Homo sapiens: one gene and its partners. The protein of the gene in region 4 purifies or fractionates together with the protein of the main gene of each other region. This does not show direct contact. Each region holds a gene or a part of one and is shown on either strand. Other genes may lie near its edges.

What was found.
Region 1: the proteins of COPB1 (region 4) and SDF4 fractionate together in Homo sapiens (co-fractionation; one large-scale study listed by BioGRID). This does not show direct contact.
Region 2: the proteins of COPB1 (region 4) and PRCC fractionate together in Homo sapiens (co-fractionation; one large-scale study listed by BioGRID). This does not show direct contact.
Region 3: the proteins of COPB1 (region 4) and POLR1B fractionate together in Homo sapiens (co-fractionation; one large-scale study listed by BioGRID). This does not show direct contact.
Region 5: the proteins of COPB1 (region 4) and IPO9 fractionate together in Homo sapiens (co-fractionation; one large-scale study listed by BioGRID). This does not show direct contact.
Region 6: the proteins of COPB1 (region 4) and NAA15 fractionate together in Homo sapiens (co-fractionation; one large-scale study listed by BioGRID). This does not show direct contact.
Region 7: the proteins of COPB1 (region 4) and CC2D1B fractionate together in Homo sapiens (co-fractionation; one large-scale study listed by BioGRID). This does not show direct contact.

What each region holds. Positions count from the first base shown.
Region 1 is NC_000001.11:1,225,502-1,229,846, reverse strand, and holds part of SDF4 (45 kDa calcium-binding protein isoform 2 precursor), read left to right. Parts: intron 1-900; 5' UTR 901-1,053; coding exon of another isoform or gene 1,054-1,074; coding exon 1,075-1,379; intron 1,380-4,345. UniProt on the Homo sapiens protein: May regulate calcium-dependent activities in the endoplasmic reticulum lumen or post-ER compartment. Isoform 5 may be involved in the exocytosis of zymogens by pancreatic acini.
Region 2 is NC_000001.11:156,770,535-156,774,034, reverse strand, and holds part of PRCC (proline-rich protein PRCC), read right to left. Parts: intron 1-3,500. UniProt on the Homo sapiens protein: May regulate cell cycle progression through interaction with MAD2L2.
Region 3 is NC_000002.12:112,551,620-112,555,964, forward strand, and holds part of POLR1B (DNA-directed RNA polymerase I subunit RPA2), read left to right. Parts: intron 1-155; coding exon 156-379; intron 380-1,025; coding exon 1,026-1,197; intron 1,198-1,919; exon of another isoform or gene 1,920-2,071; intron 2,072-2,904; exon of another isoform or gene 2,905-2,960; intron 2,961-4,345. UniProt on the Homo sapiens protein: Catalytic core component of RNA polymerase I (Pol I), a DNA-dependent RNA polymerase which synthesizes ribosomal RNA precursors using the four ribonucleoside triphosphates as substrates.
Region 4 is NC_000011.10:14,471,987-14,476,331, reverse strand, and holds part of COPB1 (coatomer subunit beta), read left to right. Parts: intron 1-386; coding exon 387-547; intron 548-1,716; coding exon 1,717-1,837; intron 1,838-4,345. UniProt on the Homo sapiens protein: The coatomer is a cytosolic protein complex that binds to dilysine motifs and reversibly associates with Golgi non-clathrin-coated vesicles, which further mediate biosynthetic protein transport from the ER, via the Golgi up to the trans Golgi network.
Region 5 is NC_000001.11:201,866,317-201,870,661, reverse strand, and holds part of IPO9 (importin-9), read right to left. Parts: intron 3,930-4,345; coding exon 3,703-3,929; intron 2,015-3,702; coding exon 1,866-2,014; intron 1,073-1,865; coding exon 944-1,072; intron 80-943; coding exon 1-79. UniProt on the Homo sapiens protein: Nuclear transport receptor that mediates nuclear import of proteins, such as histones, proteasome and actin. Serves as receptor for nuclear localization signals (NLS) in cargo substrates.
Region 6 is NC_000004.12:139,342,489-139,346,833, forward strand, and holds part of NAA15 (N-alpha-acetyltransferase 15, NatA auxiliary subunit), read left to right. Parts: intron 1-337; coding exon 338-472; intron 473-1,697; coding exon 1,698-1,851; intron 1,852-4,345. UniProt on the Homo sapiens protein: Auxillary subunit of N-terminal acetyltransferase complexes which display alpha (N-terminal) acetyltransferase (NAT) activity. The NAT activity may be important for vascular, hematopoietic and neuronal growth and development.
Region 7 is NC_000001.11:52,358,861-52,363,205, forward strand, and holds part of CC2D1B (coiled-coil and C2 domain-containing protein 1B), read right to left. Parts: intron 3,887-4,345; coding exon 3,742-3,886; intron 2,757-3,741; coding exon 2,653-2,756; intron 2,273-2,652; coding exon 2,114-2,272; intron 1,690-2,113; coding exon 1,564-1,689; intron 1,374-1,563; coding exon 1,214-1,373; intron 1,024-1,213; coding exon 845-1,023; intron 675-844; coding exon 599-674; intron 498-598; coding exon 390-497; intron 298-389; coding exon 167-297; intron 1-166. UniProt on the Homo sapiens protein: Transcription factor that binds specifically to the DRE (dual repressor element) and represses HTR1A gene transcription in neuronal cells.

The DNA of each region.
Region 1 (4,345 bases), on a different chromosome or scaffold from region 4:
CTCTGCACTTAGGGTTGGCTGTCTTCGCAAAGCCTGGTCAGTCGGGGGGAGAGGGGGAGCCTCCTGTTTCTTAGTGAGAAGCTGAGGCCGGGGAGGCCACATGACTTAGCTAAGGTCATAGATCTCAAGAATGTTCAAGTCAGGGTCTGGAGAGTGACCCTAACCCCATGGGTCAGTGGCATGATGCCAGGAGGGACAGAGCCGGGCCCCACAGGAAAGCTGTGCTGCAGGTGTTGGGCGATGGGGACAGGTTAGCCCCTGGAGGTGCTGACAGCTCGAGAGAGAGATGGAAAGACGGAGAGACAGGGCTGAAAACTCAGTGTCTGTAAAAAAAAGACCGGGCACAGTGGCTCACGCCTGTAATCCCAGCACGTTGGGAGACTGAGGCAAGAGGATCGCTTGAAGCCAGGAGTTTGAGACCAGCCTGAGCAATACAGCGAGACCCGTCTCTACAAAGAGTAAAATAAAAATAAATTACTGGGCGTGGGGGTGCACGCCTGTGGTCGCAGCTGCTCCGGTGGCTGAGGCGAGAGCATCACCTGAGCCCAGAGCATCACCTGAGCCCAGGAGTTCGTGGTCACGGTGAGCTGTGGTCACCGCTGTACTCCAGCCTGGGTGACAGAGCAAGACCCTGTTTCTAAAAATAAAGAAAAAAACACCACGTGTGGTCCGGAGAAAACAAATGCCACGTGTGGTCCAGAGAAAACAAATGCCACGTGTGGCCCGGAGAAAACAATGCCACGTGTGGTCTGGAGAAGGCAGTGCCACGTGTGGTCTGGAGAAGGCGATGCCACATGTCTGGATCCTGTGAATCGAGGATATGTTTCATGTTGCAGGATAGACGTGCTTGGGGAAGTCTTTGCTGAGTCTTGCTAATGATGTGTCTGTGTCTCTCTGCAGACTGTGAGCTGCTTGTCCCCATCCTGCGGCCGTCCTGGGGACACAGAGCCCTCCGTGGTGCCCGGGGATTGGATTGGAGCCAGGACCTCACTTCCTCCTCTGCCCCTGCCCCTGCCCCTCCCAGCACCTGGCCCACACCCTGCAGCCCGCCCCATGGTCTGGCCCTGGGTGGCGATGGCGTCCAGGTGGGGTCCCCTCATTGGCCTGGCTCCGTGCTGCCTCTGGCTCCTGGGGGCAGTCCTTCTGATGGACGCGTCTGCACGGCCTGCCAACCACTCGTCCACTCGAGAGAGAGTAGCCAACAGGGAGGAGAATGAGATCCTGCCCCCAGACCACCTGAACGGGGTGAAGCTGGAGATGGACGGGCACCTCAATCGCGGCTTCCACCAGGAGGTCTTCCTAGGCAAGGACCTGGGTGGCTTTGATGAGGACGCGGAGCCGCGGCGGAGCCGGAGGAAGCTGATGGTCATCTTTTCCAAGTAGGTGCCGCCATGTGCCCAGACTGGGGGGCTGTCCGCGTGCGCTCGCCTGTGTGTTCCTATCCTGGCTTTGCGCGGTGGGGGGCGCCGGGCCCTGTGTCGGGACCTGCCGGGCTGGGAAGACGTGCCGGTGATGAGCGCCACTTCCAGCCTGCTGTGTTTGCGCGGAGGCCTGCGCTGGCAGCCCAGAGCCGCTCCTTGAATGCCCTGGGTCCGCCGGGGGCTCAGAGGGCCAGAGTGGGCCTGTGTGGCCGTCCCTAGGACAGCCTGGAGGAGCCCACGCGGCACTGCAGTGGTCAGCGTCCTCCATGCTGAGGGGCAGACGCCGGCCACGGGCAGCCTCCGCAGGCTGCAGCCCCAGTTGGACGAGGCCTGGCTGAGGAGTGAGGGGCTGCCACAGGTGGCTGGAGAGCTGGTACAGGGTGCTCTGGGCTCCTCCTGACACGCCCTCTACCCTGTGTGTTTGGGGTCCCTGTCACACACGGGCCGCGTATCACACGCAGGCTGGGGGTGTGTGGGGTTGGCTTGTTTTGCTGGCCTGGTCGGGAGCAGAGCTGTGCTGTCAGTGGCCCATCCTTGGCCGTCACTGCCCCCACCCTGCTGAGTCCCGAGACCCTCTTGCTGCCTCTGTGCCTAGTGCCGAGCTTTCTCCCCCGACCCCATCCCTGAGTCTCGAGAGCCTGTTGTGAGGGGTCCAAGATGGGTCAACCTGACCACTCACCCACAAGGAGCCAGGTCCTGCACGGGCGCCTTACTCCTTACGGCACGGCCGGGGTGCCCTGCGGTGTGGCCCTGGAACCTACTTGCACTCAGCGCTGGCCTCACCCCTGGAGGCAGAGCAGGGTCAGGGCGTGCCCGTGAGTCCCCCAGGCCAGCCAGGGTGCCGGGCAGGGAGCCGAGGTGCAGGTGAGAGAACACCCTGGGCCTCCTGGGACCTGCGAGACCTGGGCACAAGGAGGCAGCCCCCGCCGCAGGGCCTGGCCACGAGCTCACCTTCCCGCAGGGCCTGGCCACGAGCTCGCCTTCCCGCAGGGCCTGGCCACGAGCTCGCCTTCCCGCCGGGCCTGGCCACGAGCTCGCCTTCCCGCCGGGCCTGGCCACGAGCTCGCCTTCCCGCCGGGCCTGGCCACGAGCTCGCCTTCCCGCAGGGCCTGGCCACGAGCTCGCCTTCCCGCCGGGCCTGGTGCTCCAGGACCAGTGCAGAGGGGCAGGTGGCAAAGCTGGTGAGCAAGGGGATTGGGCAGGGCTGGGGTCCTGGGGTGCAGGAGCAGGTAGGAAAGGTGTGAGGACTGGTCTGGCTGTGCCACGGCCCTTGGGCTGAGGGCCAGGCGGGAGGGCCCTGAGGATCCAGGCTTTCGGGCGGAGCACAGGTGAGCTGGTGGGACGGAGGCACGGTGCCAGCTGGAGGACCTGGGCACCAGGTGTGGTGTCCCCTTGCACCTCTCCTCAGATGGTACGGTTCGGGGGTCCTTGCGTGGCCTGAGTTCACTTGGTGGTGAGCTGACCAACCCACGAAGAGGCTGCTGGTGCCCCTGGGGCCTGTCAGGTTCACCACCCCTGAGCTCACGAAGGCCTGGCTCGCGGCATCACAGGGGAAGGGTCCCCGTCCCTGCTCAGCCGGTGCTGGGGGTGGGCTGCACGCCTGGGCGAGGGGAGTTGAGGCTTCTGCTCGGTGCGTCTCCAGCTGGACCGGGGTTTCTTTTTGGTGCCTGTAACGAAACCCCAAGCTGTCTCGTTTGAGGAGGTGGGCATGGGGAGTGGGAAGTAACAGCAGGTCTCCGGGTCTCCCTGACTCCTGCGCCGAGCGGCGACAGCGGCCGCTGTGGGTGTTTAGACTTCCCTTCCCACACGCGGGTCCCTTCTCGCCCTTCTCCTGCGTAGGGCCCCGTCCCTCCAGGACCCACGTTCACTCAGCTGTCCTGTCTCCTCTGTCTCCTCTGGGCTGGAACGGTGTCTCAGACTCTCCCGTTTTTGTGAGGACGTAACAGTTCTGAGAAGGGCTGGGTAGGAGGTTTTAGGCTGTCCCTCAGTTTGGGCTTGTGGGATGTGTTTTCTCCTGACCGTACAGGGTTGAGGGTTTCTGGAAAGAGCCCCCAGAGGGGAGGTGCCATGTTTCCTCCTGACCGTACAGGGTTGAGGGTTTCTGGAAAGAGCATCCAGAGGGGAGGTGCCCTGTCCTAGGGGCTTTTGAGCTTCACTTCCTTCCCGCTTCCCTGCACCACGAGATGCTCCAGGCTTTCCTTCCCGCTTCCTGGCACGGTGAGATGCTCTGGGCTCGCCTCCGTGCCACCTGCCCCAGTGCAATAGCTGCCGCCTTTCCAGGAAGCCCTGTCTCCCGTGGCTGGAGCTGGAAGCCAGGGTCTGGGCACTGGGCGTCTTGCCCTTGTTCTCTCAGGAGCCAGAACTTGATAACATGCGTGTGTGCACCAGCCCAGTCACATCTGTGTTCTGCCAGCCCTGTTCACGTGTGTGTGCTGTGTACACGTGGGTACCGGCCTGTGCACTTGCGTGTGTGCGTGCCAGCTCCATGTACGTGCACCGCCCTGCAGCCGTGTCTTCAGGCACCTGAGTTTGGATGAGTGACTCCTTGCCGACATCTTGACTGGAATCCTGCGCCATGTGGTTTCTTTCCACCTTTTTGCTTTTTGCTCTGCCTCGTGTGTGTCTGTGTCTGTGGAGTGTGTAGAGCGTGTGGAGTGTGTGGCCCGTGTCTGTGGCATGTGGAGTGTGTGGCCCGTGTCTGTGGCGTGTGGAGCGTGTGGCCTGTGTCTGTGGCGCGTGTGGAGCGTGACCGGAGCATTCGAGGATGCACGTGTCCACGTGAGACCCACCAGGTGCCCCACCTGCCACATGGCCACCCGGGTGGCCCCGTCCCCAGCCGGTGTGTTTTGGGGACTGTGGAGCTGAGGGTGCCTCCCAGGCCCGTCCACCTCTGGGCTGCTGCGGCTGCTGAGGGAGGGGCGCGT
Region 2 (3,500 bases), on a different chromosome or scaffold from region 4:
ACCTCATATAAGCGCAACTATAAAATATTTGTCCTTTTGTGACTGGCTTACTTTACTTAGCATAATGTCTTCAAGGTCTATCCATGTTGTAGCACGTATCGGAATTTCATTCCTTTTTCAGGTTGAATAATATCCTAACGTGTGCACATACCACATTTTACCTATTCATTTGTGGATGAACACTTGGGTTGTTGCCACCTTTGGCTACTGGGAGTATTGCTACTATGAACACTGGTGTACAAGTATCTGTTTGAATCTCCACTTTTGATTCTTTTCACCTAGAAGTGAAATTGGTGGATCATCATTCTGTTTGTTTAACCTTTTGAGGAACTGCCAAACTGTTTTCCTCAAGAGTATATTAAATGGAGGTTGTGGAGTCAACTTCTAGAGAGTGCTAAAGACCAGCAAATGGCCATCTGAGTGGGTCTGTGCCATTAGATCAAGAAAGAAGGACAATGCTAGAAACACCGGAGCATCCAGGGCTGAGAGTGTCCCGGGCCACAATAGGCACACATTGGTTTTGAGGCACAAACTGTTGAGTCTGTTAATAAGAAAGTATTGTATTTCTTCTTGGCCTCACGAGAACCTGAGCCTCAATGGCCACCACTGTCCTCTCTGTTCCAGCTGCCAAGAGTGACAAGACACACATACCCCGAGACTGCTGAGCAAGAACGGAAACAGACATTTTCCATTAAGCTAGGTCCAGTGGGATCTGCTAATCTATCAGAGCCTCATTCCCCACGGCGGCCTCTCTCTTATCTTCCCAGGCTCTGGCTCTGAGACACTCCCTCTCCAAAAAGCAATCACTAGCTTCCAGGACTAAAAGCCAAGGAGGAAATAAGAACCCAAGAACAGACGCCCCCTAAGCACCACACCCCGGGGCTCCAAACCCTAATCATTACTACTGTTATCCCCATTTGCTACATTCATCAACCCTTTTTCACTCTTAAGTCTCAAGTACCTGCTGCTAGGATACCGTTTTCACTCCCATTTTTGCACTCCTCATTTGTATTGCTTTCTGCTTTCTGGCTGCCCCAGGCTCTTCCATGTTTTCCATAGACACCCCGATAAACACAACAAATCTCATCCAGGTTCAAATACAATTGCAGCTACTCACAAACTGTGTTTTCAGGCAAATCACTTCTGTTCTCTAAACTCCTGTTTTCTTCTTTATAAACTAAAGTAAGTGCCCAGCACAGTTCAGACATTAAGCAGGTGCCCCACACAGATAAGCACACTCTCCCTTCCCTTTAGCTAGGGCTAAAACTTAGCTAAATCCACTGCAGGCAATTCTTATTTGGTTACTAGAAGTGACAAAAATTAGTGAAATCTGTCTCAGAGCTTCAAATTTTCTACTATCTTGGTAAACAATCTGAAAGTGGTGGTAAATACTAATCCAGATAACCCTGAAATTTCTGTGTGCTTTGGAATACACTTTATAAATGATAGAAAACTCTTCCAGCAGACTTATTCTTCTGATTTTGGTTTCTCATATGCTAGGAGAAGTCTGCCTCCCCTGAGCCTATGAAATCAACCAGTGTAGCTTGGGTCACAGCAAGAAGGGAAAAAGAAAGGACGATTATCCATTCTATGGATCATTCCTAATTCCCCACAAAAATCAAAAGCTGACTGAATTTAATTTTGGAATACGCCTGGAGGGAGAATTTGGTACTACGCTGACTGCAGATGATTGGATAATATGACCCAAATCAAATCAACCAAATTCTCACTCCAGGAAAACCAGAATTGAGACTACCATCATAGTTCAATCTGGACTGATCTCTAAAAGGAAAGAAATCAAAACCAAGGTGTGGGTGGCCATCCTTCACCTACAACAAAGGTTAAGAAGCCAATCCGCAGAGAAATAATGAATCAAGGCCAGAAGCAGTGGCTCACGCCTGTAATCCCAGCACTTTGGGAGGCTGAGGCAGGCAGATCAGTTGAGCCCAGGAGTTTGAGACCAGCCTTGGCAACATGGTGAAACCCCATCTCTACTAAAAATACAAAAATTGACCAGTCCCATAATCTGGTCTCAAAACAAATAAATAAATAAATATATTAAAATTTAAAAATAAAACAAATTTTTTAAAAAATGAATCAGATGTGCAAAGAACAGCTGTGTAGAGATCCCCAACAGATCTCAGGTTCCTGATGCAGGTCCCTTCTGAGGTACCACAGTATATTTATGATGCATTACCATTTAAGGCTAGGCGTGGTGGCTCACATCTGTAATCCCAGTACTTTGAGAGGCCAAGGCAGGAGGGCTGCTTGAGCTCAAGAGTTCAAGACCAGCCTGGGCAATGTAGCGAGACAACGTCTCTATTTATTTAAAAAAGAAGAAAAAAAAAAAACATTTAAACTAGCTTGAGTTGGCTTCTAACACTTGCAACAAATGAAATCTAACTAACCCCCAATCTGCTCTGCCTCCCGTATTCCCTCAATAAATGGCAACACCACCCCCCAGCTGCCTGAGGCAAATGCAGTGGGGGTCAATCTTGAATCCTCTCCTTAGTGTAACATCTAATCAATCCTCCAGTCTTATCACTTCCCCCTCCTAAATATACCTCGATGCTCCAGTTCTCTCCATCCCCTAGTTCATCATCCAGGCCACCAGCCTCTCACATTCTGCCAGTCTTGCTCCCTCCAAGGTTCTCACCACTCTGTGATCAGAGAATTCTTGCCTTTAAGGGGTCTTCACAACCCCAAAATGAGGTAGAAAGACCCTAGCATGGCATCCAAGGCCCATTATCTGGCCTGAGCCTCTCTCTCTCTAGCCCCATTCTCTCAGCACTCCCCACCCTCTCAAATGCTCCAGCCACTGTGCTTTACTCACCTGAGGTTCCCTGAAAGCACTGTCCCTCTCTGTCCTCCAAGCTTTTATACATTGTTTCCTCTGCTGTGCTGCTCCCATACTACCCTTTCTTCAGCCTTATCTCTGCTTAGACATCTCCCCCCAGAGGGCTCCCCAACCTCCCAAGACTGGACTAATGCCCACTAGGTATACTCCAATGGCACCAGCTTATCACGGTCCTTCTCTGCCTTGTCCTAAAATCTATTTCCTTCTGTGTTTTCTCCAGTAGATCATAAGCTCCTTTCGGGCTGGGGCTATCATGTTCACTACTGTACATTCTTAGCTCCAGGTACAAAGAAAGAGCTCAATATCAATTGAACGAAATGGTTGAGAGTTAATTACTTCTAATTACTTCTACTTCAGCACCAAACTCTAAAGGGAAATTATTTACTTAAGGAAACCTAATTCATTCTTTCAAATGCGTACTAAGAGCCTAAGTGTAAGACATAGAGCTCAGAACTGGAGGGGCTTACATCTGGAGGGGGCACAGCTCTTTTAAAGACAATGGTTGGCTGGCGTGGTGGCTCACACCTGTAATCCCGGCACTTTGGGAGGCCAAGGTGGTCAGATCACCTGAGGTCAGGAGTTGAAGACCTGCCTGACCAACATGGAGAAACCCCAGTCTCTACCAAAAATACAAAATTAGCTG
Region 3 (4,345 bases), on a different chromosome or scaffold from region 4:
AGAATGCTTTATTTTAGAGAGTTTACTTTGATTCAGCAATAGCAGAGTGCTAATTTTCCTTGGGTATTAAAAAAATGAGAGAAGATAATTATTAGTGAATAGATAAAGTATTTTAGTTATTAGTGAGCAATTAAACCTTTTATTTTCTATTCTAGGCACTTGTCAGCTTTTCTGATTATCAGATCTTTCAGGAGCTCATCAAAGGAAAAGAGGATGATTCTTTCCTTAGGAACTCTGTTTCTCAGATGTTAAGGATTGTAATGGAAGAGGGTTGTTCGACACAAAAACAGGTCCTTAACTACCTAGGTGAATGCTTCAGAGTAAAACTCAATGTTCCTGACTGGTACCCAAATGAGCAAGCTGCGGAGTTCCTGTTTAAGTATGTGTGCTTTGTCTAAACTGTTTTTGGAGGGGCGGAGGGCTGTCAGTGGTTCTTTGTATTGGTTGCAGTTTGGGCGGGCGAGTCATTTGGGAATGAGAATGAATCTTGGGGTAGAATCCTGGTCCTTGCTAGCCGGGGGCTACCTTTGTTTTTGCGGCCCTCCTCACTTGTATTTTTTTAGTAGTCGTGTTTTATTTTATAGTACTTTTTAACTTTTATTTTGAAATAATTTCAGACTTCCAGAATAATGTCCAAATAGTACATTGGATTCTAATTGTGAACATTTCATTCATTTACATTTACTTTTTTACTTTCTGTGTACACAGATGTACATTTTTCTTTCTGTACAATCCCTGAAAGTTGCAGGGATTGTATCACTTTATTTCTCCAAAGCAAGGACTTTGTCTTATATAACCACTGTATAATTACTAAAGAAGCCAGCTCCATACTGGTGCTGTCCAGTGCATAGCCACCAGTCACATGATAAGCACTTCAAATGTGGCCAGTGTAGCTCAAAAACTGAATGCTTAATTTTATTTAATTAAAGTTAAGTAAGCATGAGTTGGGGATCTTGGTTAATAGAATATTAAGTAGTATTACCAACTGAATTGTTTTAAGCTTTTTTTTTTTTCTGTTTTCACAGCCAGTGCATCTGTATCCACTTGAAATCCAATACTGAAAAGTTTTATATGCTTTGTCTCATGACGCGAAAGCTCTTTGCTTTAGCCAAAGGAGAGTGCATGGAGGACAATCCTGATAGTTTGGTGAACCAGGAAGTCCTCACACCGGGTCAGCTCTTCCTTATGTTCCTGAAGGTAAATGCATGCTATGTCCACCCTTGGCCAGTGGTACCACTTGTGGAATGGCGTGACTTTGTCCAGCAGCACTGTTTTCTGCATGTTTATAGTTTCTAGTTTTGGCATTTTGTGTGGTCTCTTTTTTGTTTGTTCATTTAGCAGTAAGGGGATCAGAAATCCTGGCTTACACCAGGTTTGGAAATTTGCTTAATATTTTTATGTAAAGATCACATCAAATCTTGGTCACAGTGTTAATGATAAAAAGCAAATGGCCTGTATTTATACATATGGTTGATCCTCATTATTTGTAGATTCTGTATTTGTGAATTCACTCACTGGCTAAAATTTATTTGTAACCCTAATGTCAGTGCTCAGTGCTTTCATGATTATTCACATACATGAGCAGAGCAGTGAAGAATTTGGGTCTCCTGAGGCAAATGTTACAGCTGAGGCGGGGCAGGGCGATGCTCTGCTTTCCGGTTTCAGCTCATACTATAAAGAGGGTCCTTTTTGAGGTGCATTTGGTGCTATGTTTTTCACATTGTCGTGCTTCTTATTGGTGACTTTTTTGTTTTTTTTTGAGACAGGGTCTCAGCCTCAACCTCCCAGGCTCAAGCAATCCTCCCACCTCAGCCTCCTGAGCAGCTGGGACTATAGACATTCACCACCACACCCGGCTAATTTTTAATTTTTTTTGTAGAAACAGGGTCCCACTATGTTGTACAGGCTGGTCTCAAACTCCTGGGCTCATGTGATCCTCCTGTTTCAGCCTCCCAAAGTGATAGGATTGGAGACATGAGCCACTGAGCCTGGCCAGTTTTTGCTGTTTATAATGGTCCCCAAGCATAGCACTGAAGCGCTGTCTAGTGTTCAGTGTTAATGAATTAACAAGGTATGTTAAATAAGGTGCCTTTCAACAAAAGCTGACATTAAACAAGATTGTATATTGATCCGTTGACCAGAATGTTATGACCAGAGACTTGCAGGAACCCAGCCCTGTATTTTTCCCCAGGAGTAGTGGTTTTATATGTGTTAATTCAGTGTTCATTAGAACATAGCTACTGTGAGTAGTGAAATTTGACTGTAGATGTATATAGAGAGAAAGTTGGCATGGCACAAAAATGATTTCATAAGAATATTGATTCAGTGGCATTTTATATTTTGCATCTTATCCTCAAAAAGATGTAATCTAAGAGTTAATATATTTTTAGTAGAGGTGGGGTTTCACCATTTCAGCCAGGCTGGTCTCGAACTCCTGACCTCAGGTGATCCACCTGCCTCAGCCTCCCAAAGTGCTGGGATTACAGGTGTGAGCCACTGTGCCTGGCTTCTAATTTATTTTATTTTATTTTGAGACAGAGTCTTGCTCTGTCTCCCAGGCTGGAGTGCAGTGCTACGATCTCAGCTCACTGCAACCTCCACCTCCCGGGTTCAAACAATTCTCCTGCCTCAGCCTCCCGGGTATCTAGGATTACAGGCGCGTGCCACCATGCCCGGCGAATTTTTTTATTTTTAGTAGAGACGGGATTTCACCATGTTGGCCAGGCTGGTCTCGAACTCCTGACCTCAAGTGAGCCACCCACCTTGGCCTCCCAAAGTGCTAGGATTACAGGCGTGAGCTACCACACCCGGCCTTCTAATTTCTTATCTAGGTAGTAATTCTTATTTACATTCTTCCCGAAAGGTAATAATCTTTGTTTCTGTTTGCTCTGTCCATAAAATTAGATTGAAAAATTTCAGCAGCCTACAATTTTCCTGACAAAAATTGAAAGCAGGCAGCGTAAGTTTTCTCTTATTAATTTAATGTTATTAAATTAACCTTTCAAGTAAAGGTTAATTTACATTTCCCATCTACTTAAAGTGAAGCATGGTGGGCTCATTGTATTCCACACTTATAAATGTGTCTTTATTCCACATCAATTCCTAATTAGGAAAAAAAAGAAAAGAAAAAGAAATGAGACCAGGAGTACAGTGGCTCATGCCTGTAATCCCAGCACTTTGGGAGGCTGAGGCAGAAGGGTAACTTGAGCCCAAGGAGTTTGAGACCAGCCTGGACAGCACAGAGAGATCGCTACAGAAATAATAAAAACTATTAGCAGTGGCTGGGTGTGGTGGCTCACGCCTATAATCCCAGCACTTTGAGATGCCAAGGTGGGTGGATCTTCTGATCTCAGGAGTTCAAGACTAGCCTGGGCAACATTGCAAAACCCTGTCTCTACAAAAAATATAAAAATTAGCTGGGCATGCTGGCATGCTGCAGCAATTCCAGCTACTCAGGAGGCTGAGGTAGGAGAGTTGCATGAGCCTGGGAGACGGAGGTTACAGTGAGTTGAGATCACGCCACTGCACTCCAGCCTGGGCGACAGAGCAAGACCCTGTCTCCAAAAAAAACCTGTTAGCTGGGCATGGTGGTACATGACTGTGGTCCCAGCCACTTGGGAGGCTGAGGTGGGATCCCTGAGCCCAGGAGGTCAAGGCTGCAATAAGGGGTGATTTTGCCACTGCACTCTAGCCTGGGCAAAAGAGCAAGACCTTATCTCAAAAAGAAAAAAGAAAAAAACACCTGGTGCGGTGGCTCACACCTGTAATCCCAGCACTTTGGGAGGCCGGGGTGGGAGGATCACTTGAGCCCAGGAGTTTGAGATCAATCTGGGCAAACAGCCCAGAGACAAAACTTCGTCTCTACAAATAATTTTAAAAAAATTTAGCCAGGCCTGGTGGGCCACACCTGTGGTCCCAGCTACTCAGCAGGCTGAGGTAAGAGGATTGCCTGAGCCCAGGCGGCGGAGGATGCAGTGTGCTGTGATCACGCCAGTGCACTCCAGCCTAAGTGACAGAGCAAGACCCTGTCTCAACAGAAAAAAGAAATGAGTCTTCTGTAGCAAGGCGTTACTAAGGTGACCTGTGTCAGCAACAAGAGAAACCAAGGGAAAATTGGGGCTTTTTCAGAGAATTCATTGCCGAGTATCTGATTTCCTTACCAGCTACGTTAAAGCTTTTAAACCTTTGAGTTTGGAGCATAAAAACAATCTTCAGAAGATACATAACCATGACATAAGATGAATTATAGACTGTTAAAAATTCACATTGTATTTACATTGAAATAAGCAATATAAAATTGAAAAATAGCAACCATATTTTCTGTATTATTGTAGATTAACCATAA
Region 4 (4,345 bases):
CTGTTTTGGTTAAAATTTCAAGGAAAGGAATGAAGAAGAGGAATACGACTTAATGACCATCTGCTTTGTGTTAGACACTGTCCAATGCATTTTTCTATTAGGTAAAATGTGTAGAAAGAATTAAGATTTCCACTTAGCAGATTAAGAAACTGAGGTCCAAAGTAGTAAGTGGCAGAGTGAGAATTCAAACCCTGGAATATCCATCTCTGAAGCCCCTATTCTACCTACTACATTATCCTGGGAAGGAAATAAATTGAAAGCAGAGTTCCCAGTTCCAAAAATCCCATTAGGGTAATGCCTTTTTTAGAGAAACAATCAAATATTTAAAGATAATTTTGCTTGCTGTTGATACTATTACTAAAATGATGTTTCCAATTGACTTTTAGATCCCAATTGTAGAGTCAGAAATAAAGAAAGAAGCTGGTGAATTAAAACCTGAAGAAGAAATAACTGTAGGGCCAGTTCAGAAATTGGTTACTGAAATGGGTACCTATGCAACTCAGAGTGCCCTTAGCAGTTCTAGACCCACCAAGAAAGAGGAAGACAGGTAATTTATGGCACATATACCCTGCCAGCTGTACTACTTTTATTATTACTCTTGTATGTAAGACAGTCAAATGATTTCTTTCCTCTTGCTTTTGCAACCAAAATGAAAATCTTTGCCATTTAAGGTACTTGAGAAGCGGAGGATGTTTAAGTTCTTCCCCCTAGGAATTGTATTGATGGTTTTAATTCTCTGTCCCTTCCAGTGTTTTTATGGAAATAACTGTTCTGTTTAAACTCAAATTATTTTTACTCAGAAAATGCTAAGTGGGGGTAACTGAAGATATTTGAGTTTTGTTGTTTATTAGCATCTGAAAACATTTTGAAGATTTTTCAATTTCTAAATGATGGAATAAAATTGTGCATTTTTCTATTAAGTAAATTTTAATGGTGAAGATGGTGAAATCTTTGCCTAAAATTTTACTGAATACCCACTAAGTGCTAGGCATTGTGCTAAGTAGTTTGTCTCATATAGTCTTGACAATAAGCCTTTGAGATAGAATATATTATCTCCATTTTATGGAAGAAGAATTTGAGGCTTACCCAGTAAATAAACAGGTAAGCTGGAATTCGGAGGTACTTCATTAGCTGCAATTACGTATGCCCCTAATTAAATATTGTATCTTTCCATATTCTGATGGCTTTTGTGTCATTCAAAGATAAGTTTTCTTTTTTTTTTTTTTTTTTTTTTTTTTGACACAGAGTCTTGCTCTGTCGGCCACGCTAGAGTGCAGTGGCGCGATCATGGCTCACTGCAACCTGTCTCCTGGGCTCAAGCAGTTCTCCTGCCTCAATCTCCTGAGTAGCTGGGATTACAGGTTTGTGCCACCATGCCCAGCTAATTTTTGTATTTTTAGTAGAGACGGGGTTTCACCATGTTGGCCAGGCTGTCCTCGAACTCCTGACCTCAGGTAATCCGCCCGCCTTGGCCTCCCAAAGTGCTGGGATTACAGGTGTGAGCCACTGCACCTGGCCAAAGATAAGTTTTAAAGTCATGTATTATTTTTCTTTTTCCTTCTTTCTTCTGGGAGCTAAGGAGTTAGTTAGCTAAGGTATCCTTATCACTGAAGGATGGTAATAAGAGTGTTTAATAGGCCTATATCATTCATTTATACAGAAGCTGCATGCTGCTTAGCAAGTTGGTGGGTTTGATTTTCCTTGGTTGCTTTGCAGACCTCCCTTGAGAGGATTCCTTCTGGATGGAGATTTCTTTGTTGCTGCCTCCCTTGCCACAACTCTGACCAAGATTGCATTGCGCTATGTAGCTTTGGTTCAGGAGAAGAAAAAGCAAAATGTAAGTTCATTTATTTTACATTTAACCAACAATTAAACATTGAGTGCCTACTATATGCATTGAACAGTGAGGGACTCAAAAATTAATGCTAAGTTTCTGTCATGAAAGAGTTTATGATTTAATAGCAGAAGTGGACACAGTAATATATTACTCTAAAATTGATAAAGTATCTTCCTCTTCTGTTTGGGCTTTAAAAAAATGAAAATTGACAAAGTAATACAATAACAATGTCATGTGATTATTCCAGTGGAAGAGAAAGGATTTATGAAGTCACCTCAGTTTGCTGGGATTAGTTCAGGACCAGTGAAGGAAATGTCCTTCTCTCCAGCATCTGCATCCATTCGGTCATTGTCTGTTTTATCCCAGAATGTCTCTTAAGTTATTCTCATCTGTAGTTCATGCCTGCTTTGTAGCTTCTGACCGTTCTAACCAAACACCCATTTACAATGGTATGCAGTTGGTCCTCCATATTCACAGCTTCTGCACCTGCAGATTCAACCAACTATGGATTGAAAATATCTTTTTTAAAAAATGATAAACAGTAAAAAATAATAGAAAGTTGAAAACAATGCAGTGTAACAATTATTTACATAGCATTTACAGGCATACTTCATTTTATTGTACTTTGCACATATTGCTTTTTTTTTTTTTTTTAAACAAATGAAGGTTTGTGGGAACCCTGAGTTGAGCAAGTCTGTTAGCATCATTTTTCCAAATAAGCATATGCTCACTTCATATCTCTGTGTTACATTTTGGTAATTCTCACAATATTTCAAACTTTTTCATTATTATTACATCTGTTATGGTGATCTGTTATCAGTGATCTTTAATGTTACTATCATAGTTGTTTTGGGATGCCAGGAACCATTCCCATATAAAATAGTAAACGTAATCAATAATTGTTGTGTGTGTTCCGGCTGTTACCCCGTCTCTTTCCTCCTTGGGCCTCCCTATTCTATTCCCTGAGATACCACAATATTGAAATTAGGCCGGTTAATAATCCTACAGTGGCTTCTAAGTGAAGGGAAGAGTCACATGTCTTTCACTTTAAATCAAAAGTGAGAAATAATTAAACTTAGTAAGGAATGCATGTCAAAAGCTGAGCTAAGCCAAAAGCTAGGCTGCTTTTGCCAAGTAGGTAGCCAAGTTATGCATGCAAAGGAAATGCTCTTAAAGGAAATTAAAAGTGCTACTCCAGTAAACACATGAATGATAAGAAAGTGAAACATTTGGCAGGCGTGGTGACTCACACCAGCACTTTGGGAGGCCCGAGACAGGCGGATCACGAGGTCAGGAGTTCGAGACCAGCCTGGCCAACATGGTGAAACCCTGTCTCTACTAAAAATACAAAAATTAGCCAGGTGTGGTGGCAGGCGCCTGTACTCCCAGCTACTTGGGAGGCTGAGGCAGGAGAATTGTTTGAACATGGGAGGCAGAGGTTGCAGTGAGCTGACATCACACCACTGCACTCCAGCCTGGGAGACAGAACAAGACTCCGTCTCGAGGAAAAAAAAGAAGAAGAAAGAAAGCGAAATAGCTTTATTGCTGATAGAAAGTTTGAGTGGTCTGGATAGAAGATAAAACCAGCCACAAGATTCCCTTAAGCCAAAAGCCTAATCCAGACTAAGACCTTAACTCTCTTCAATTCCATGAAGGCTGAGAGAGGTTAGGAAGCTTCAGAAGAAGAGTTTGAAGCTAGCAGAGGTTGATTCATGAGGTTTAAGGAAATAAGCCCGTCTTCATAATGTAAAAGTTTGACATGAAGTAGCAAGTCCTAATGGAGAAGCTGTGGCAAGTTATCTGGAAGATCTAGCCAAGATCATTGGTGAAGGTGACCACACTAAACAACAGATTTTCAGTGTAGACTAAACAACCTTATATTGGAAGAAGATGCCATCTAGGACTTTGGTAGCTAGAGAGAAGTCGGTGCCTGGCTTCAAAGCTTCAAAGGATAGGCTGACTCTTTTGGTAAGGGCTAATACAACCAGTAACTTAAGTTGAAGCCATTGCTCATTTCCCATTTTGAAAATCCTAGGGCTCTTAAGAATTGTGCTTAATCAACTCTGTCTGTGCTCTGTCAGTGGAACAACAAAGCCTGGATGTCAGCACATCCTCTTTACGGGATGGCTTACTAAGTATTTTAAGCTCACCATTGAGACCTACTGCTCAGAAATAAAAGACTCCTTTTAAAATATTACTGTTCATTGACAATTTAGCTGGTCACCCAAGAGCTCTGATGGAGATGTAGAAAGAAATGAATGTTTTCATGCCTGCTAAGACAACATCCATTATGCTGCCACTGATCAAGTAGTTTCAACTCTTATTATTTAAGAAACAGAATCCATAGAACATTTGTGGTAGTAGCGCAGAGTTGGTTACAATGTCCTACCACAGCAATTTCTGACATTCAAATTGGGCCTGTAGCAATGGGACTCCTTTTGATTCCTTCAGCTTTCGTATTATGTTGGTTATCTATACAGCAGGTTTCTAAATTGAAACACTTTCACT
Region 5 (4,345 bases), on a different chromosome or scaffold from region 4:
TGTGGCCCTGCTCATCATGCCACTGGGCTACTTGTTCCAGGGTCACTGACACATAGGCCCGCAAGCACTCTCCGCCATTCTGGGGAGACAGGGGTGGCAAGCAAGATTAGTAATCGAGGGACAGATGCCAGAAGGCCCTCAGTCTGTATAAACAAATGTTCCCAGAGGCCTATGCCTCATAAAAGCGGTGAGTCTATAATGTTTGTGGTGGGCTCATACCACTGGAGTTAAGACATTTACTGTTACAGACATAGACGTGCATTACATAATTCCCCCTTTACCTAATCAGCTATCTCACAAATGTGTATATATATTTTTTTAATCACAAGGGACAATGGCCAAGCAAAATGAATTTTAATCATAAAGGTCTACCTCTGGTACTAAAAAAATATGCTTACAATCTTGGAATAACTGGGGATACTGTAGGTCTTTATATAGGTCTTACACAAACCACTAGTTGCCTAGGGATTTCCAAGCTGATCAATATTCACTGGCAAGTTCCTATAACCTTTCTAATCAATCACAGTAGCAGACACCTGAAAAGGTAACCAATTCACCCAAGAAACAAAAAGAGAAAAAATATTCAGGCATGTCTCCCCTCTCTAGAGGCCCATCACTCTGCTGACTTTATTACTAGAAGAAATATGCAGAAAGACTTTCTTATGGCCCCAAGTCTAGATGTCTGTAACCTCTTTCACAGTAGCAATACCCAATACAGATGGGCAGGGTGCTTGGTATCCATATTTTTAAAAACTGTAACATGCTCCAAAGCACCAGAAATGCTTGGCTTTTGCAGACTGAACCCTTCCTGAATCTGCTAAGTAAATATGGAGTTGAGAATTCCGTATTTCAAAAGCATAAAACCATGTCAGATTTCTCAGCATAGTATAAGCCCATGGCTGGGGAGCTATCTTCCCTCTTCTACTCTCCATGTCTCAGATACCTGCATGGTGGCATTGTCATCTGTGTGAAGGGTACACTGTGCCACAGCAGGGAAAGCTTGGCAGATGAGAAGCTGGGAAAGGGGAGGCTTTGTATTTCGTACTACTGTTGTCAGGATATCAATGGCTGTCTGAAAGAGAGAAGAAAAAGAAAAGTCAGAATTGCCTCTGGGGTGGGGGTTGCCCAACAACCAAGATCCTTACTGGATGGGTATTACATAGCAACCCAGAGAAAGCTTATTAATGAAAGGCAAGTTTCCAAAATAAAAGGAATAATTAAATGGGTAGTACTCTCAGCCTTCTCATAATAGCTTACTAATTGATTAGCCATAGGGGTGGGCAGTAGTACATGGTAGTGGATTGGATAACCAGGTGACATACTTAGTGGCACTGTGTAAAGGTGGCACTCTGTTCAATTCACTGAGGGTACCTCTGGAACAAGAAGAGCCATTTTCTTTCTTTCTTTCTTTTTGAGGCAGTCTCGCTCTGTCACCCAGGCTGGAGTGCAGTGGCACGATCTCCACTCACTGCAACCTCTGCCTCCTGGGTTCAAGTGATTCTCCTGCCTCAGCCTCTTGAGTAGCTGGTACTGCAGATGCCTGCCACCATGCCCGGCTAATTTTTGTATTTTTAGTAGAGATAGGGTTTCACCACATTGGCCAGGCTGGTCTCGAACTCCTGACCTTGTGATCCACCCACCTCGGCCTCCCAAAGTGCTGCAATTATAGGCATGAGCCACCGCGCCAAGCCAAGCCATTTTCTTAAAGCTTCAGAGAATCACCCACTGTCCTTGCAGGCAAAAGAGCTCAGCAAAATCACCCCATGAATCTCTAACGCTATTAGGTTCTTGTCAGCTAGATGCATCTGTGGGTGGCACTTGTAGATCTCTCTCACACACACACACACACACACACGGCCACTTACCGCACAAAGCCCTGCAGGAATCTTGTCTGCTGGGGCCTGCATTATGCTGACCAGAGTGGGAATCAGCCTCATTTGCATTGGGCCCTGACAGGCTTCAATCTGGGACAGCTCCTTGAAGATGTCCTGAGCCAGTGAGGCGACGACGGGATCTGAAGTGGATAAGGCAACACGGAATCCCCCTGCCTGATGGTCTGCATCTGCTTCTCGCTTAATGATGCCTGTTGTTTGGCCCTAACCTAAGTTAACAACTTCTGCATTGATTACTTATCACATACCCGGGACCTAGTGGGGCCACATGAATAACCTGAAAGAACAGGAGAGATCCTAAATCTGCAAGAGGTACACTTTGTATGGCTTCATTAAAGTAGGGACTAGTCATTAACAGCTACTCATAAAACAAAATGTGGCTTTTTCTAGAGAAAAATCTTTAAAGTCTTTATTCTTGTGAAACCTACGTTATAAAACCAAATGCTTAAAAAAAAAAAAAAAGCCCAACTGATACTTTAAGAAGACATGAAAGCTGCAAAAATTGCCAAAACACTGGCTTTGATGCATGAGAGAAATCATACATATCTCCTATGGGGTAGCCACGGTAGACATGAAGAACTCTCAAAGCTACTTCTGGGGCAAAAGGCAAAACTCCTAAAAAGCAGAGCCTTATGAAGAAAGGGAACTTTAGCTCAATCTTCTTTATCTATAGAACAAAACATCCTCCTCTATTTAGTATGGAAAAATATAGGCAATGTGCATTAAAGTATACCTTAAAAGATCACTGCAGCATTGTTTGTAATAGAAAAAAATTGGGAATACCCTAGATGTCCATTAACAGAATGGGTAAATTATGATATACCCATTTTATGGAACATTAGTAATGGCTGAAAAGAATGAGATATATCCAAGAACACAATGTGGAAAGCTCCTCAGTACACATTTTTCAGTGAAAAAGCTATCAAATAACATGTTCAGTATATCACATTATATAAATAATCCTTATCCTGTACATCTTTCTGAGCTTCAATATTGGAGCTCTCTCTTTAAAAAAAGAATCCTTAATATTTTACTAGTAATAAGGTATTAATAAATACATTCACTACAGGAAAAAAAAAACTTAAAATGCAGAAAAGTAATAATGAAAACACCTGTAATTCCACTACCTAAACACTCAACATTTTGATGTATTTTTTTTTAAAACATACCTATCTATACATACATGCTTTTCTAAAAGAAAAATCAAAACTTGGGATCATATTCTATGGATTTTTTGGGAAAAGTATCTTTTCATTTATTATAATGTAAGCTCTTTCCCATGGTTTCAGATATTCCTTTTAAGCTTGATTTTTAATGGCTGCACAGTATTTCATTTTATGGATATAATTAACTAATGTCTTTTTATAATTTCCAAATTTTTACTACTGTAAAAAATATCTAGTGAATACCTTTGTTTATAAACTTTTCCATATATCTTTCTTTAGTATCTCCTTTTCTAAATTATAGTCCTAGCCCTTTTCTTTTAGGAGGCTTTTCATTTGCCCAATTTCCTATTCTATCATCAAAGTTCTGAATTATGTCTCTTGCTTATTAGCCCTTTATTTATTATCTTTATCCCTAAGTCCTTACTAGAGAGTAAGTGTTACAGAAATAGGTACTCTATTTTTTAATGCTGCTACATTTACAGCACAATTCTATTTTTTGCTAATTGAAAGCCAGATTCTTTGCTTACGATGTTAAAACCATAGCTTCATAGCTAAGACCAGACCTAGGGAATCTTTCATTTAAATTCACCAGCCACCACCTTTTCTTTGGTGCCCCTCATAATACATCCTCCCTGGCAGCATACCATTACTGTACTTTAGGAAAATGGCGATGGTGAAGGGGCAGATTTTGCTTTCCATGCTTGCTGTGAATTCGGGGTCTACTGTACAAACGATGCACAGGGTCTCCATCACCAGGTTGAGGACCTCTGAGCTGAACTGGGCTGCTAGGTGAATTAAGCCATCAAGGATGCTGGGGAGGAAGGGCTGGAGCACGTGGGTACTCTCTGAGACTTTCAGTTGGTCACAATAACTAGAGAGAGATAGATAAGCAAGAATTATTAAAAAAAATTCAATTCCTGGTTTTCCCAATCAATCTCACATATTATAGCATTTGTATGTGTAGCTTTATAAAGCTAATTCTAAAGTTAGGTTTAAGTTTCTACTTCTTTCTGGATGTATTATATAAACATCAACACCACCATTTCTATGTTCTGTAATTTATTTCTTTGACTTTTGCTATTTTCTTTAAAAACTTCTGCTTTTTTTCTTGAGGTTTTTTTTTTTTGCATCCTGAAACAAGCTTAATTTATATAAACATTTTATGTTTCACTTTCAAAATCAGCCTATTAGCTGTAGGATTTAAAGTTCCCTCTATAGTTTTACTGTATTAGCCTCTTTTCAATCAACAAATATTTACTGAATGTTGCTTATCATGTCCAATATGAT
Region 6 (4,345 bases), on a different chromosome or scaffold from region 4:
TTTTTTTTTGAGACGGCGTCTTGCTCTGTTGCCAGGCTGCAACCTCTGCCTCCCGGGTTCAAGTGATTCTCCCGCCTCAGCCTCCTGAGTAGCTGGGACCACAGGCGTGCACCACCATGCCCAGTTAATTTTTGTATTTTTGATAGAGACGGGGTTTCACCATGTTGGCCAGGATGGTCTCGATCTCTTGACCTCGTGATCCACCCGCCTTAGCCTCCCAAAGTGCTGGGATTACAGGCGTGAGCCACTGCGCCTGGCCTAATATGGAGATCTTTTAAAGGAGCACTTGCTGTTACTAAAAGCCTAAGAAAAAGTGTTTATTTTTTTCCTTTTAAAGGAAACGAGGTATCAGTTACTTCAGCTTCGACCTGCGCAGAGAGCATCATGGATTGGTTATGCTATTGCTTACCATTTATTAGAAGATTATGAAATGGCAGCAAAGATTTTAGAAGAATTTAGGAAAACACAACAGGTAATAACTAGAAGCCATTTTACTAAGTCTGATCCTAAGTATAACTAAAAAAATAATGTGCATAGTCTGGCTTACTTTTAATTTTGAAATAGTTTCAAACTTATAGAAAAGTTGCAGGAATAGCACAAAGAACTCTACATAGGGGTTCATTCATACTAAACTAATTGTTAATATTTGGTGCATTTACTTTAAAATTTGTGTATCTATTTATCTATTTTAATTTTCTTCCTTAAATGTTTGAGAGTAATTGCAAGACATCATGCTCCTTTACCCCTAAATGCTTTAGTGTGTATTTTCTAAAAATAACTGTATAGTTTTCAGTTCTCTAGATAGTATTATAGGGATAGATTATAAAAATTAGGAAATTTAACACTGATAGACTGTTATCTAATTAATCCCCAGCCCATATTCAGAATTTACTAATTGTCCTAGTTATAGCCTTTCTAGCAATTTGATTTCATTGCAGGATCCAATTAAGAATCATACCTTACATTTAGTTATCATTTCTCTTCAGCCTCTTTTAATCTGAAACAGTTTTGAAAACTTCCTTTGTATTTTATGACATAGACATTTCTGAAGAAGGCTGTGCTTTTGTAGGATGTCCCTCAATTTGGATTTTTCTGATGGTTCCTCATTCTTAGATAGAGTTTTATAATTTTGGCAGGAAACCATATAAATGATATTGGGTCCTTCTGCGTTCATTACATCAAGAGGCACATGCCATCAGTTCGTTCCATTTGATTACATGGTGAAAGTTGTATTTGCAGTTGTAAACGTATTTTTCTCTCTTTGTGTTTAATATGCAGTTTGAGACTGAATAGCCTATTGCTCATCAAACTTTCACCATCTAGTTTTAGCATTCATTGATTATGATTCTTGCCTGAATCAGTATTACTATGATAGTCGCAAAATGGTGATTCTCTTAACTCTAGTCATTCCTTGTAGGTTTATTATTTGGCATTCTACTCCTGAGTAAGAGCTTTCCCTTCTTCCCCATATTTATTGTGTGTAAGGACTTATGGATTATTATTTTATTCAACCTGTTATATCCTAATATTGTCATTATTTACTCAGTTGCTCTGTAGATACTTAAGAATTTTTTAAAAATTAGTTTTATCAACCGGATGTTATCCTTTGACTTCTTACATGTTTTTGAGTATTGTGAACAATTTTCTGATATGAAAATAAAATTCTTACTGTCAGTATTCCTTATATCCATATACAGACATCCCCTGACAAGGTGGATTATGAATATAGTGAACTACTCTTATATCAGAATCAAGTTCTTCGGGAAGCAGGTCTCTATAGAGAAGCTTTGGAACATCTTTGTACCTATGAAAAGCAGATTTGTGATAAACTTGCTGTAGAAGAAACCAAAGGTATTTTTAAAAGAATTGTCATTTATTCTAATATTGAAATATGACAGAGCAAGGCTGAAAAATCTAGTTGCTGCTGACAGTTTCATATAATTCAGCTTTTTGATGATAGGAAATCTATTTCTTACTCGTGTACTTTTAATAGTTTATGATGTGGGAAAATGTACATTTAAACAATATTGTAGATAGAGGAGAAAGTTGATTGTGAACAATGAAAAGTAGTTGAATGAAATGACTCATAACATTCTTTAAATAAAGTATCTTTGTATTAAAAATATTATGGAATTTGATCAAAACACAAGAGACAATTAGTTTTATAAGACAGAGGATGACATTTCTTAGAAACAGTTTATTAATAAACTATAGTGTATGTAGTATGTGCCAGATTTATTGCTAATAATATATATTGATGAATCAGTCTTTACTAAAATACATATAGGATATTTCTGAGAGTCTTTATGGTTAATCTGAATGTCTTCGATGACACAGAAAGAATATGAGTTCTGGAAGAAAGGGAGACCAGAGATTTGGGTTCATAATATGTAGATTGTGATAGGAGGGGTAGATCCCACTCAGCAGAGGGCTGAGAAAAATGAGTCTTAACAGTTTTAGAAGTTGAGGGCGTGATTATAGAAAATAAAAGAAGAATAACAAGTAATGAAAGGACAAGTGATTTTTTAAAAAATTACCTTCTGAAATGCTGCTTTGTCCTTGCTAGTCTAGGGAACTGAAGTTTGCTGGTTTCACATTCCCTTGGCTCACCTTGAGGTTGAACACAAAAAGTATAATATACATCCATGTGCATAATAGGTATAGCCATTGTTTGCCAGATAAACTTTTGTCGGAGGATAATGGTACTGATAAGAAAAACTGGAATTCTAAGACTTCTGGAGGGAGCTCTCTTGTGAACTGCAGATCCAAGACAACCTTCTTTCATTTGAAGTAGTCATTCTTTAGTAGTCTGTTAATCACAAAGGAAGGAAATTTCTGACTTGCTGGAAAGATGGCAAGTCTGGAAAAAACTTGTCTCATTGGCCACTAAATAGCTCTGTGAACAGAGTCAAGGCTTGGGCCTCAAGTTTCTTTATGGAAATAAATGACAAATTATTTCATTTGATCCCTTTGATAACTTCATTAATGAGGAAGAATGGCAGATAGGTAAAGTTAGATAAAGGACTCAGAGCTGACCAGTGGATTTTTAGCAATTTAGAAGTCATTGGTGACCTTAACAAAAGCACTTTCTGAGCTTCTGGAAGAAGGATGGTAAAAGCCCAAACATCAAGTCTATTTAAAAGAGACTGAGGCCGGGCGCGGTGGCTCAACCCTGTAATCCCAGCACTTTGGGAGGCCGAGGCAGGTGGATCACGAGGTCAGGAGATCGAGACCATCCTGGCTAATCTGGTGAAACCTCGTCTCTACTAAAAATACAGAAAAATTAGCCAGGCGTGGTGGCAGGCGCCTGTAGTCCCAGCTACTCGGGAGGCTGAGGCAGGAGAACGGCGTGAACCTGGGAGGCGGAGCTTGCAGTGAGCTGAGATTGTGCCACTGCACTCCAGGCTGGGCAACAGAGCAAGACTCCGTATCAAAAAAAAAAGGGAGTGGGAGTAGAGGAACTGAAGATAAGAAGCACACATGACTCAGTTGAGGAGTTTTGCTGTAAATGAAACAAATGGGGTGCCGGTAGGTGAAATGGGATGCAGGCTCAAAAAGTTTTTGTTTGTTTGTTTGTTTTTCATAGCGTGTATTTGTGCTGACTGGGGAGTGATCCAATAGAGATAGAATATTTGATACAGTAGAGAGAATGTCATGTGGTAGATTGATGTCATGTGAAGGATTAATTTAGGTAAGAACATGAATAGTTCACATCAACAAGTAGTGGTGGTGTGTAAGTGGCGGGCAAGTAAATGTGTAGATGTAATGCATATTTTGGAGTTTCCTCTAATTGCTTCCGTTTTCTACATGAAATAAGAAATAAGGCTATCAGCTCATTCCACAAAATATGTATTGAATACCTACTTTGAGTTAGGTAATGGGACAGGGTGTATAAAGAGAATAGAAGGGAAGTGAGGGTAGAATCAATCTTTGGAAATTCTAGCAATCTTTAGAAATTCAAGGCAGTGTTGCTGGTAGGGATAGTTGGTGGGAGAAGATAAGATGGTCAAGATCACTCAGGAACTTCTTAGAGTGGATCAATGGGCACAGTTAGGCAAAAAAAAAATTTTTTTTTTTTTGAGATGGAGTTTCACTCTTGTTTCTCAGGCTGGAGTGCAGTGGCGCGATCTTGGCTCGCCGCAACCTCCACCTCCCGGGTTCAAGCGATTCTGCCTCAGCCTCCCGAGTAGTGGGATTATAGGCATGTGCCACCATGCCTGGCTAATTTTGTATTTTCAGTAGACATAGGCTTTCTCCATATTGGTCAGGCTGGTCTTGATCTTCTGACCCCCAAAGTGCTGGGATTATAGGCGTGAGCCACCGCACCCAGCCTAGGCAAAATTTT
Region 7 (4,345 bases), on a different chromosome or scaffold from region 4:
ACAGCAGCCCTGGGAGAAAAAAAGATCCCTAAGGCAGCAAGAGCCCCAGAGAGACAAACAGATGATGGTTCAGAAAAGACAAGGACTAGCCGGAGGACCAGGGAGACAGAGCACCCAGCCAGGGAAGAGGCCAGCACAGGCAGGGGCTGCATAGCCGCGGGCCCACCTTGGCAATGCGCTCATGCATCCGAGCCTTGCGCTCGTCCCCACCACTCCGGGCCTGGATGCCCGCCTCGCGGTACTTGTTCAGCCTCTGCTGCAGGGCATCCAGCACTGTCTGTGACTCTGTAGGGGCCACTTGAAGGAAAGAAGGAAGAAGTGGGCATCAGGTCAGCCTGCCCTCCAATGCCTGCAGGTCCCCACGCCACAGTCCCACCATCCTGCCCTACCTGGGGTTGCTGGGACGTCAGGGGCCATCACTGGCTGCACTCGCTCCACGGCTGGGGGAATGACTGAGGGTGCTGTGGGAGCCTGAGAAGCCTGCTGGGGCTTCAGATCTGGGGGACCCAGAGTAGAGGTGTAGGTGGGAGGGCCTGGCCAGCCCCAGGCCTGCTACTCCTCCCCAACCCCACCGCAGCCTGAGAAGATACATACTGACCCTCAGGTGCCGGGGGCATGGCACTCAGATCCACGGGCTGCCCCTTCTCCAGGGCCTCCAGGACAGCACCGAATCTCTGCAGAAGTTGGAAAAGCAGGTGTGGGTGAAAGACAGGGGACCCCAAGAGCCTGGGCTGAAACAACCCCCACTTAGGCCAATCTCACTCAATCTCAGTCTAGCTCCCTTTCTGAGCCTGTTTCCCCTATCTATAAAATGAGGGTGGGTGCCCTGAGCCAGATGCCATACCTTCCCAATCCTCATGAGCTCTCGGGCACGGTCTAGCTCTCCAGCCCGCTTGGCACTGAGGGCAGCCACTTTGTACTCTCTCTGTCGGGATGACAGCAGGGCCCGCGGGTCTGGGTCTAAGTCTGAAACGGGCTGGGCAGAAATGCCAGGGAGGCTGGTCTCAGGTTGGGAGGGGTTGTCTATAAGGAAACAAACAGTCCCCAGAGAGCACATGAGGGTCACAGAAGAAGGTGCCCACGGACTTCACTGGCTTGAGGATGTCCTGGGGAGGATGTGACCAATGGTAATGAACAGTGGTGGCAGGCTGGGGACACACGCTGTGGGCTATGACCCCAGGAACTAGAACAGGATTTGGGCATCTGCAGATACCTGACTCCAAGGCAGGGGGAGCTGGAGGGTCTGTCTCAGGGCTCCTGTTGGCTGGTTCCTGGGGGGCCAGGGGCCGCTTTCCTAAGGCCACTGGAGGTGGGATCTCATCCTCATTGATCTTTCTGCCTCTCCTCACAGAGGCTAGCTGCGACTCCAAGGTCTGAGGGAGAGAACTGGTCCAGAAACCCAGCCAGCCATCTCAGCCCAGACCCTGCTCCAAGACAGGCCAGGGGTGGCCCCCCAACCCCCAAAGTCTGGTGGGGTGACCTCCCCTCCACTGGTGCGATCTCCACCAGCCGCCTTTCATGCAGCCCCCTCCCCTGCCCTGCTCCCAGCCTAGCCCGACTCACCTTCAGGCCGCGCTCGCAGCGCCTGGCTTTGGCTGCTTCGCCTGCCTCCTTGGCACTGGCCGCAGCCTCTCGGTAGTTGTGAATCCGTTCCTCCAGCAAAGCGTGTAGCCCCTGAGATGCTCCGGCCTATGAACAATTCAGCTAAGGGCCTGGCCACTCCAGGGCCTGCTAGGCCTACCATTCTCCCTCTGCGGAAGCTGCCCTAGAAGATGGAGCTCTGGGACTCCAGGAGAAAGAAGAGCCTAAAAGCCTTAAGGCAGGAAGCAAAGGCTCACTGGAGAGGCCAGAGGCCATGGCAGAGGCAAATACAGAGCCCCACTTGGTGGAAGCCAGGATATGGCTCCCGGGGGGTAGTCTAGGAGAACAGAGAGGCCTTTGAGGCTGGCTGCCACGGAGGAGTTTCTTGTGCTCAGTTTCTGCTTGGGGCGGCTGCTGGGGGAGGGTCCTGGAAAGGGTGACTGCAGCCTTGCTGTGCAGGCCAGGCCACACACGTGTTACGTCTGGGCGCACAGGAGCATCAGAGGCACAGGGGCCCTCCTCCAGAACCCACCTGAGCTGCTGGGGCTGAAGCTGTCAGGACGGCTGTCTGCACTGGAGGTTCAGTGTCTTCTAGGCCGTTCTCCTCCTCAGAGCCGCCTGGGTCAGCTACCTCATCACCATCCAGGGGCTCAGTCTCCTCGTCCACACCTAAGACCTCCTGCAGCTCCGTCTAGGGAGACAAAACACAGCCCAGGAGCTTGGGGGCCTCAAGACCATACCCACAACAGGACCTGAGAGTAAAGGACCCTCTCTCTCAGCAATATTCCCTAACGTCAGTCACTGTGCCTGAGTCCCCTTCACCAAAACATTTCTTTAATCTGACCGAGGATAGCCTTGAAAATAGTAATTACTCCAAATCTGAGAATCCCCAACTGCAGAGCTTAGACCAGAAGTCAAAGAGACACGCCACCCACTGTACAGCCAGGAGGGGCAAGCACTCACTCAGAGTCAGAGAATACAGGGGCACCCCCAGCCTCCTCTCCACTGCCCTCTCCTCCACCAGGCCCAAGCTTGCCTCAGAGCCCTGGGATACCAGCCTGGCAGACACACCAGCAGCTCTGCATCTTCCTCCAGCCCTTCCTCCTCCTCCTCCTCCTCCACATCCCGCATACAGTCTGCCGCCAACTTCTCGATGTGGGCCATGGGCAGGGGGGCTGGGGGAAAAAGGTCACAACAAGTCAGCACAACTCAGATAAGTTCAGGGATGAGTAAAGGAGGGGCTTGGTAGATCCACCCAGGCAGAAATCCCTCTTCCCTCCCACAGCAGAGTCCCACCTGGAAAACTGCTCTTCCTTTAAGACCCAGTTCAAAAGACCCTCAACAGGGAAACCTTCCTTGGCCCCCCACCAAGCAACAAGCTGCTCCTTTCTCTGCACCTCTGCCTACGGTAGCCTGACATAGACATGGCCATCCACTCTCTCCAACCTCCAACAACACCTTTCACATCTGTAAAGATTTTCAAAGTCCAACAGAGCTTCAAAACAAATCTGCAAGATGGATAATATCCCCTTTTCATATATTGAATAAACTGAGAAACTTCCAACATTAATTTTCCTATCACTGCAATCCTTAAGTGGCAGAGCTAGGATTCAAACCTAGGCTTGTGCCACCCCAAGGCAGGAGCAGTGAGCCCCTTCCTAGGTCCTCCCATTATCCTCAACTCAGGGACACACAGGATGGTGGGGGATGAGTGGGGGGATTCTCTGAGGGTTCCCGGTGAAAAGAGAGGACGATTTAGACCTCCTGATCCTCCCAGGCCTGAAGTCTCTGTTCTCATCTGGGCTGTGGAGGGAGATTCCACTTAACTCGCTGGACACAATTTCTATGTACTTCCTATGTACCCAGTTCAGTCTGTGCTAACTGGGCCCCTACCCTACACCAATACCGTGGCTAGGGCTAAGGATGGGGACCTGAGTCAGTCTGAGAAACACATTTGTCCACAATGGGGAGGGGCCAGCCCAGGCCATGACACAAGGTGGGGAAGCAGGGCGAGGCCGCCTCTTGGTGGGAGTGCGGCAGATGGGTATTGGAAGGACCAGGGGATCTGGCTGGCTCCGTCCAGCTGCAAGGGAACCCCTCTACCACCAGCCTGTGCCCATCTTGTCCCAGCACCAAGACCAGCCCTGTGTCCAAACTCACCCTGCCCCTTGGGTGCTGGCTTCTTGCCTGTGGTTTGTGCTTCCCCTGTGAGAGCCAGCAGCTCAGCCTCCAGGTCCTCATCATCTTCAGCCTCATCCATGCCCAGCAGCATGTCCTCAGGGCCAAACTCCATAAAGAGCCCCATCTGAGAGCAGAGCAGGACTCTTAGGAACCACACAACAAGCAGGGTAGGGTCCAGCTCCAGAGCCAGACTTGGGGCTCTCCAAGTCCCAATCAGTGGCTCCTTCAGTCTGTGAGGCCCAATGTGCAGAAAGAAACTGAGGCCTGCAACATTACTCCTTGAGACACTTACCTTCCTAGGGACTCAACAAAAAACCCAGTAAGACCACACTGAAACTGAGACAGTCTTGTGAGTCAGAATTTAAAACACACTACCATTATTACAACCAACAGCAATAGCTGCCATCATGCACTGTTCTTAGCGTTCTATGTGATTATCTTAACCACCTCAGTTAATTCTCACAATTCTGAGAAGAAGGTCCTATTTTTTGGCCAGGCGCGGTGGCTCACGCCTGTAATCCCAGCACTTTGGGAGGCCGAGGCGGGTGGATCACGAGGTCAGGAGATGGAGACCATCCTGGCT